Regions from separate parts of the Homo sapiens genome. Here region 1 is linked to region 2. Evidence: fine-mapped expression QTL. A gene starts in region 2. The other region holds a variant in brackets. All regions are shown on one strand. Distances are between the middles of the regions.

Region 1 (4,387 bases), 22 kb after region 2:
TGTGGCTTGAGTCCTGTACTTTTTGTTCCCTCGACTGACGCCTGCCCTGGCCTCACCTAGCCCATTGAGGCAGGGAGGGTTCTTAGGATGTTTCAGGCTTCCCAACCCAGCTCTCAAATCCTGAGCAACCAGGGGAACCCTCTCTTTCCCTCTCGTCAGGGCCATTGCAGAGCACTCCTTCAGTGGGCAGGGGGGCAATCTCCAGGACCATCCAATGTCTCTCCCCATCCTACCCACCCTACAGTACAGTCTGACTGCTGGGCTCTCCCAGACACTGCCATGCTGTTTTCATGCTTCCATTTTGTTCCCTTTGCCTTGGAAATCCTTTCTCCCTTGTCTACTTGGCAAGGTCTTGCAGAAGCAATACTAGCTCTTTACTTCTCTCTGCCTCAGTTTTCTCATCTGTAAATTAGAGATGACAATAATAGTAATAATACCTACCCCATAAAGTCATTGGGAAGATCAAACAAGCTACTCCCTATGAAATCCTTTGAACAGTGGTTGGCCCATAGTAAATATTCAGCAGACACTAGCTTATTATTACAGTTATCATTAACACTATTATAGTGTGATGGTTAAGTGCACAGACCTTAGAATCAGACTTCCTCTGTACAAATCCCCTGTGTCAACTTAACCAACTACTTGACCTCTATGTGCTTCAGTATTCTCATCTTTAAAAGGCGGTTAATAATAGCCCCACCTCATAAGGTTGTTATGAGGATCAAATGAGACAACACTTTGCACAGAGCCTGACACATAGTAAGCCCTCAAAAAATGTTAGCTGTGATGATAAGGATGCTCATCAACAATTCAGCTTCCTTTCCTCTTGAGAAAGAGAGGCAGCAGGTACTCTTGGGGAACGTGTCCACTGGAACATGAGCTAGGGAGAGACATCCATGCACCCATGCAACTCTTAGACCACATCACGTTCCTGGTTCTGGCTTGTGAGATTCCCCACCTCTGTGACTTCATGTGGCCTGTTCTCTATGCCTAGGTTGCCCTGTCCCCAGGCCAAGTTCCAAGGCCTCACCTTTGGGAGGCCTCCCACAGTTCCTGCATGTTGACTGAATTCCAGGTTCCTGTAGGACACACCCAACAGGCCATCTGAAGCTCTATCCGATGCTCCCCAAAGTCTGCTTGGGGTGGAGTTAGTTCTGCACTACAGCCCTTGATTCTAGTCCTGGCTCTGCCCCCTGACTTTCTGTGTGACTTGGGGTCAGTGTCTTTTCCTTTCTGGGCCTCGTTTTTTTTATCTATAACATGAGAAGTTTGGCTCAAATGGTCTTTAAGGTTTCTCCCAGATGGGTAAATCCTAGCATTACTCACCACTGTCATCCCAGGGCTAAGCTAGTCCAGTGCCTGATGTTAAACATTTGATAGGGACTCAGACTGAACTAAAGTGGACTGATTATAGAACCACAGACAAATGCCTCGACCCAGTCCCTCCCATACCTCCTGTACGTCCTGTCACCCAGGCTTTAGCCATCCTTGGCTGCCCAGCTCCCCAACCTCTGCAACTCAGGGCTTGAGGACAGAGCCTAGCTGCTGCCTGAAGGCTGGGCTGCTGGGGCCCCAGCAGGAATGTTCCTGGGCTTATTTTGGTCCCTTAAATTAGAAGGCTGGAGGTTCTAATTTACAACTCCCTGCCTGGAGCGGGAGCCTGGGCTGGGGTGGCCTGCCTCAGCTGCCAAGCATGAACCCCACTCTAGACCACAACCCAACCTCAGAGCTGCCTGTGGCTATTCCTGCATAGCAACAGCACAGACAACAAAGGCCCCTTAACCTTCCTCTTCTAGCGGCAACTATAGCAGTGGCTGCTGCTGCCTTGGGACTCAGCAGGATGAGGTACAGAACAGGGAATGGGCTGGCTAAGTCAAAACACTAGGAAGGCACAGATAGTTCCTGTGCCCACACTGGGCACTCACCCTTTGGGCATCTTGGCAAGGCCACAGGGGCTGCCCCCACAGAGCTAGGCCAGACAGAGAAATGTGGCCAATGGAAACTAAGGCCTGGGACCTAGAGGGCCACTGAGCTTTGAGGGAAGAGCCAGCTGTTTTCCATCTTCACTGAGGACTGAGGGAATAGAAACAGGCAGGAAAAACAGTGAGAAGAACC[A/G]CTGGTTTCAAAAGACCAGCTTTCTATCCTAGGCATACTGTGGAGAGGTGACTGGACCTCCAGCCGTCCTCCTTCAATCCACTCTCCAGGCTGCCATCAGAGGTACCTTGCCAGCAAAGACCTGATCGGATTATTTCTTTAATTAAAACATTTCAATGGCTCCCTATCGCCTACAGGGGAAAATCCAGCCTTTCATTCAAGGAGCTAAGGCCCTTCACAATGTGGCCCCAGCCTACCTTTCTGCGCCACTCCCAAGGCCTCTCCTACCCCACACACCCTACAATACAGCCACTCTGGCGGCTGGCTTTCCCCCAGACCTCCCATGCTCTTTCATGCCTCCATTTTATTCCCTCTGCCTGGGAAGTCCTTTCTCCCTTGGCTCCTTAGCAAACTCTTTTTTATGGTTGAAGCCTCAGCTCAAATATTCCGTATTCAGGTACAAAGGTAACAGTTTCCTCTCTTGTGTTTCCAGTGTTTCCCTCAGACTTTTATTCATTCAAGCAGCATGTATTGGATACCTACTATACAACAAGCATTGTTCTAGGAACCAGGGATACAGTGGCAAAAATGACAAGCCATAGACCCTGCCCTCATGAAACTTCATGTAGAGGAGACATACAGCAGATCGGTAAGCTGACAAATACATAAGATGATCTGAAATAGTGTTGTGTACAGGGTGTACTGGAAAATGCTGAGTGATCTGCTTAAAGGAGGGCATCTGCGGCACCTGCTGACTTCTGTGGTGCTGACATTCCCATCATGGCTCATCTCAAGCTGGCAGTGTGAAGTCATTGAATACTGAGTTGGGAAGAGCCAGTGAAAGCCAGCTCCAGCACATTGGTACATACTAAAAAGAAAAGAAAACCAGTTAATAGAATAGAGAGCAACTGAGGCACAGACGCGGGGAGTGTTGCTAAATTCAATTAGGTGCGGGGTGGGGCCAGGGAAGGCCTCTTTGAAGAGGTGACATTTAGGGGATGGCCTGAATGACAAGAGGCCAGTTATGCAAAGATCTGGGGGAAGCTCTTGGCACTTTTGGTTTTTAAAAATACTTTTTCTATTGAGGCATAATTTCCATACATTAAAGTGCACTAATCTTAAGTGTACAGCTCCATGAATACTTACATATGTATCAGCCTCTGTAACCACCACCTAGGTCGAGATATAGACCATTTTCAGCACTCCAGAAGGCTCTTGTGTGCCTCTTCCCAATCAGTAATCCCTGTCCCAAGGGAAACTACTATTTTGACTTCTCTCCCTGTAGGTTGGTTCCGCATGTTTTTGAAGTTCATATCCATGGAATATAAATATAGCATGCCATAGTATGTTCTTTCTTTATGCTGTATTTCCCTCACTTAACATCACATCTGGGAGAGCCGCCCATGTTGTTACATGTTACATGTGGCCATGTTCTTTTTCACTGCTGTGTGGTATTCCATTATATGACCCTTTCCTGGTACCTTCCATGTTAATGATGTTTCCCTGTCTGTCTCCTCCTCGGGGCCTGAGACAGGGCAGTGTAACACAGCACGAGCAGCTATGAGCTCTGATGTGGGCCCGACCACTGCTGAGCTCAGGGATGTGGAGTCCTCTTCTCTGAACAGGATGTTCCCTTCTGTCTTTGTATCCATGAAACAGATAGTGGCAAGCCTTCCTACAGATGTAGCAAAGAGTTAGCAAGATGATCCACAGCAAGCACTTAGTGGAGGCCCTGGTCTGGAGGGTCTGCTCAAGGGCACCCCAGGTGCCTTCTCCACCCTTGGCCTGTGCATTTGGCAAGCAGCAGGTATAGTTCGTGCATGCATGTGGGGGAAACACAGCACACATATGATTGTATGTTGTGCTGTGAAATGACTGCCGAGATTGCTTTGGGGATGGTTGGGGTGAGGGACAGGTTTGAGGCACCAGAGGCACTTCCATTGCTGAGAGTGCCCGGAATGTGAGCTGCCACAGAAAGGTCTTCAGTACCCTCCCCACTAGGCTGGACCAGGATGTATAGAGGGAAAGAAAGAGGCAAGGGACTTATGACCCCTGCCACAGCGCTTGCACAGGAAGGAGTGCAGAGCATTCTTGCTGGGGTCTCTGCTCCCTCCCTGCACTCCGCTTCAATTTACAGTTGCATGAACTTAGGTTTGGAGAAGTAAGGTCAATTTCACATAGCCTAGAAAGTGTTGGAGGAGAGATTCAAACCTAGGTGTGTTTAACTGAAAGCCAGTGGGTTGAGGGCATCTTGTGAGACCTTGAGGGTGCTGACCCAGCCTCAAGGAGACAG
Region 2 (4,387 bases):
CAGAGCCAGGAGGCTCTTGCCAAATCTGGTCCCAGCCTCGCTCCAAGGATCTCTGAAGGGAATTAGGCAGAACTTGCTGGGTGTGTGGCTGGAGAGACAAGCCAAGAGTGTGGGGAGGCGACTACCATTTGTCAAACACCTATTGTTATATACCAGGTAGGGAGTTAGCACTTAGCTCCCCTATTTAATCTCCACAGCAAGCCAATGAGATAGCAATTTTTATGGTCAGATAGGGAAGCTGAGGCCCAGGGATGTTCAAAGATTTGTCCAAGGCTACTCAGCCAGAGGTGGCAGAGCTGGGATTTGGACTCAGGACTGTTGATTCCAAAGGCAGCTCCTTCTAGGACTAAAGCAAGAGGAATGTAGTGGCCTCAGTTCCTCCCTGAAAGGGAGGCCCTACCAGGTAGAGAGTTCCCTGGTGGAGGCCTAGAGCACCTTCCTGGACCCTGGGCCCACTCTGTAGGGAGGGCTAGCTGGGTAAGAGCTGTGCTAGAGGGGCAGAGAAGCAGGTTCCTCTCACCCCAACCCCTGCAGGTTCCGCTCAGGCAGTGCTGGCCTCCCTCCTCCCATAGGGTCTCCCCGCTCCCTTTATTCCTCAACAGAGAGAGAAGGGAGCCAGCAGACAGTGCTGAGAGTAGAGTAGGCAGTCAGAAGACCAGACACAGATCATTCACAGGCAAGAACTCTGGGCTGCCCCTGCTTCACTGTTTCCATCAGGGCAATGGGGCATGGGAGGGTGTATAAGACGATGGCTGAGACCGTGTCAACTCCACCAGTGTGTGTGTGGTGAGGCCTGCCTGGGCAGGCAAGTGCTGTGACCATGTCAGTGGAGATGGCTCTGCCCACAGAACATGATTCAGGGGATAGCAAGGGCAGGAGCTAGGGTAAGCCAGGAAGACACATCAATAGCTGGTACGAGAGCTCTGTTAGGCCCTGCCTGGGGTCCAAGCCCTGCCTCTGGCTGCTCCATCATGACAGAAAGGTGGAGGATAAGCAAATGAGAATCTGTGGTTAATAGAAATGGGGTCTTTTTGAAAAGAGGAACACTAGGGGAAGTGCAAGAAGGTAACAAAGGGCTGGAAACACTCTCCTGGTTGTCCTGAGAGGCAGAGGAAATTGCACCTGTAAGAAAAAGCTTGCCTTTAGATCTCCACAGAGGCAAGGGGCACTGTGTGGCTGATTAAACGGAGCTCTAGTTACAGGCCTGATACCCCTGCTTGCTGTGCAACCCTGAGCAGGTCTTTTTTTTCCTCTCTGGGTCTCAGTGTTTCCATCTGCACAGTGAGAATTTGGACCTAAATGTTCTCCAAGAGCTCTCTCAGCTCTCAAATTCCAGAATCTTCTCTAAACCTTCTCTGAGTCAAGCCCCTTGAGCATGGCTGTGCCTCAGGCACTGACAGTTGTTTTAATGTGCTGATCAGTAGTGGAAGTCACAGTAACATTGTGAGGTGGGGGTGGTGTGCATTGGGGTCATCCTAGGATCCAACGTGAACTCCTCACCACGGCCTAGAGGCTTGAGTGGATTAATGCCCTGCCCATCTTTCCAGCCTCCCCTCTCCCTCTCCAGTTTCCCCTGGCTTCCTTTCCTTGTCTGGGATGTATCAGACTCCCTCTTGCTTTGGCACCTTCACATACACTGTTCACTATACTTGGAACGCAGGATCCCCACCTCTTTGGTAATTCTCTTCCTTTTGATCTTAGCTGAAATGGCCCCTCTTCCAGGAAGTCTTCCTGGGCCCCTAGCCTAGGCCAGCTCCCAGTCTGAAACACACTCATAGCATCATGATAATGATCATAGTAGTAGTTGCTTGTACCATATAAGTATGTTTGTATCTGTCTCTCCTCCTCAATTACTATCAGCTCCCTGATAGCAGGACCCTTGTTTATCTCATTCACAGCTTTACCCCTGGTGTCCAATAACCCAGGAAACTTTTAACCAACAAATATTTCTTGAAAACAAAACCCCTAGAAGCTGCCATGTGCTGTAGACCTACTGGGGGCCAGGCACAGACATACAGCATCTCATTGGGTCCTTGGATCATGCTCTCCCTACTTATTTCTTAGGTGCAGAGATGGTGTGGCAGAGAGCTGATGGGTTTTTTCCTTCCAGAAGATCTTTGTCCTGGACCAGTTGGCTGGGGTGTGCAGAGCTGGGCCTGGCAAGCAGGTCTGCCTGTTTTGTGCCTCCTTTTTTGCTTGCCACCACTCTTCAGAGAGGAGCAGCAGCTGTGGCCGCTCCTCGTGTTCCCATAGCAACCAATGCTTACCTCCCGCTCACACTGGTTCCTAATTGCCTGATTACGCATCTTCTCCCCCGCCAGCTCGCCAGCTCGGGAGCTTCTTGAGAGCAGGGTCCATGGCAGGCTTTGCTCACCATTGCGTGGCTCCAGGCTCAGTGAGTATTAGTTAAATGAACAAAAATGAATGCATGACCATCCATGCACTTGGGTTTTTAAAAGCTTTCATCAAAAACAAGGCACCTGGCAGCCTGTAGTGGCTTGGGGGAGGGCGAATTTGAGGACTCGTTGCTCCTGGCTCACCTCTGCTGAGTGGCGTGGGTGGCCAGCCCCCCTTCTCCTCTCTCCCCTGCTGCCTGGGGAAGCTCTTTAGAAAACAGGCAAGACAGCCTGCACGGTCATGGCTGCTGGCAGGAGGGGGATGCTGGAGACGGTGTGACACCCTCCCCTACCAATCCCCCCACCCCTGCTCCACCATGCACAGGCACACTCGAACTCCCTCACCACCTCCTTCTGATGGAAGCCATCTCAAATGGCCAGTTTTTGCTTTCAGAATTACCAGAAACAATTGAGCAGCCTATTCAATTCTAATGCTCTGTTCACAATCTCACCAGTCAGCCCCTTTACTCTGTTCCCATTGCCACCATGTTAATCCCACTCACCACCATCTTCCACCTGAGCTGCTCCAACAGCTACCTCCCTGCCCCCTTTCTGTCCTTTTCTCTTCCCCCTCGTGCCCTCCCTCACGCCATCTTCCATGAAACAGACAGAAGGAGTGTCCCAAACAGAAATCATCCCACGTTATTCCTAGCCAGACTCACGACAGAGGCAGGTGCATTTTTACTATTTTTGTGGCATGACAGAGTCTGTGTAAGTCACTGAAGCGCCTAGAGGGGAAGCAGGTAGAGCTACTAGTCCATTAATTTAGTCTTTAAATGTTTGTTCCCTTAAATGTTTGGCTTTGGACCACGCATGAGCTAGTGAGCCCAGAGCTCACAAGGATGGGACCAATATGAGTTTTTACCCTAATGGAAGGAACAGAAAAAAAAAAAAAACAATATGTGATCTGCACTTTGTAGAGGGTGCTATGGGAATGTACAGGGAAGTATGTTTGTGCAGAACCAGATGAAGGAACATTTGAGCTGGGTTTCCTATCAGAAATTGTTGGTTGCAAGCAACAGAAAGCATCTCTGATTAACTTAGGAGAGAAGGGAATTTATGGGGTTGGAGGGGTAAGCTATAGGGAGCTTACAGAATCAAGGGAAAAGCTAGAGAACCAGGTATGGAAATCGACATAAGCAAAGGCACTTCTTGGGGAGGGGTTGGGAAGGAATAGGAAGCAGGAATGGTTTGATCAGGATGTTGCCAATAACATGAATGAAGTCTGTTTCCTCTATTCTTATATTGCTTATTCCAGATTCAAAGTCCAATGAGACTGTCCAGTCACCAAGCTTAGTCCCATGCTCGCCTCCTGGCTATACTGGGCTGAGGGGGGGAAGGCAACTTCCCTTTGGCTTCTATGGAAGGAGGCATGCATGGATTTATTGTTTCACCAACATTACCCACAATCAGGCAGAGACAATTCACTAAACTGGAGCCTAAGGAAAGGGGAGGAATGAAGGCTGGGAAGCCACAAACCAACAAATGTCCACTCTCTGCTTGATGGCAGCAAAAAAAAAGAGGAAGAGGGCATTCTAGCCAGAGAGAACCGAATGGACAAAGAAAGAGCTGAAGCCTGCTGTGCTCCTGGCAGGCAGGCAGCAATGTGTGACTGGGGCGTAAGAGGAGGAAGGCAAAGAGCCACAGATGAGATGGGAACAGGGAGAAGACAGATCACAGTGTGCCCTGTGGAGTGGGCCCTAGGGAGCCAGTCTCTGGGGGTGGGGGGTGACCACATTGGCATTTTAGAACCTTCACTCTGGGGGTGTCAAGAATGGATCAGAGATGGCAAAGTTGGAGATGGGGAGACCAGCAAGGAACTCTTGTAGGCAAGAGATGATGAGGCCTGAATTCCAACATTGGTGATGAAACGGAAAGAAGACAATGGATTCAAGAGCAATGCAGGACCTAGAATCCTGAAGTTTGAGGGGGTGGAGGATGGAGAGGAGTAAGAGATGACTGTGTGTCAAGAGGGAGGAGTGAGTTTGGGA

Which allele goes with the higher level. Alleles are on the strand shown, and positions count from the first base shown. SD is a standard deviation of normalised expression in the study named.
For the expression in prefrontal cortex of the gene that starts at base 2,307 in region 2, allele A in region 1 goes with a lower level than allele G (moderate effect, 0.60 SD a copy in GTEx).

What was found. PIP is the estimated chance that this variant, and not a neighbour inherited with it, causes the effect. A credible set is the group of variants that fine-mapping cannot tell apart.
Region 1: its variant is the best candidate, but not a certain one, in a credible set for the expression of LINC00269 in prefrontal cortex (GTEx, PIP 0.76).

The regions. Positions count from the first base shown.
Region 1 is chrX:69,198,890-69,203,276 of GRCh38, forward strand. LINC00269 (long intergenic non-protein coding RNA 269) reads left to right here. Exons shown (of 5, transcript NR_103715.1): 2 at 2,588-2,743. Among named protein-coding and RNA genes, the nearest start is that of LINC00269, 22 kb to the left of the region's middle. The variant A/G (reference allele first, on the strand shown) is at 2,116.
Region 2 is chrX:69,177,251-69,181,637 of GRCh38, forward strand. It overlaps LINC00269 (long intergenic non-protein coding RNA 269), which reads left to right and starts at 2,307. Exons shown (of 5, transcript NR_103715.1): 1 at 2,307-2,395.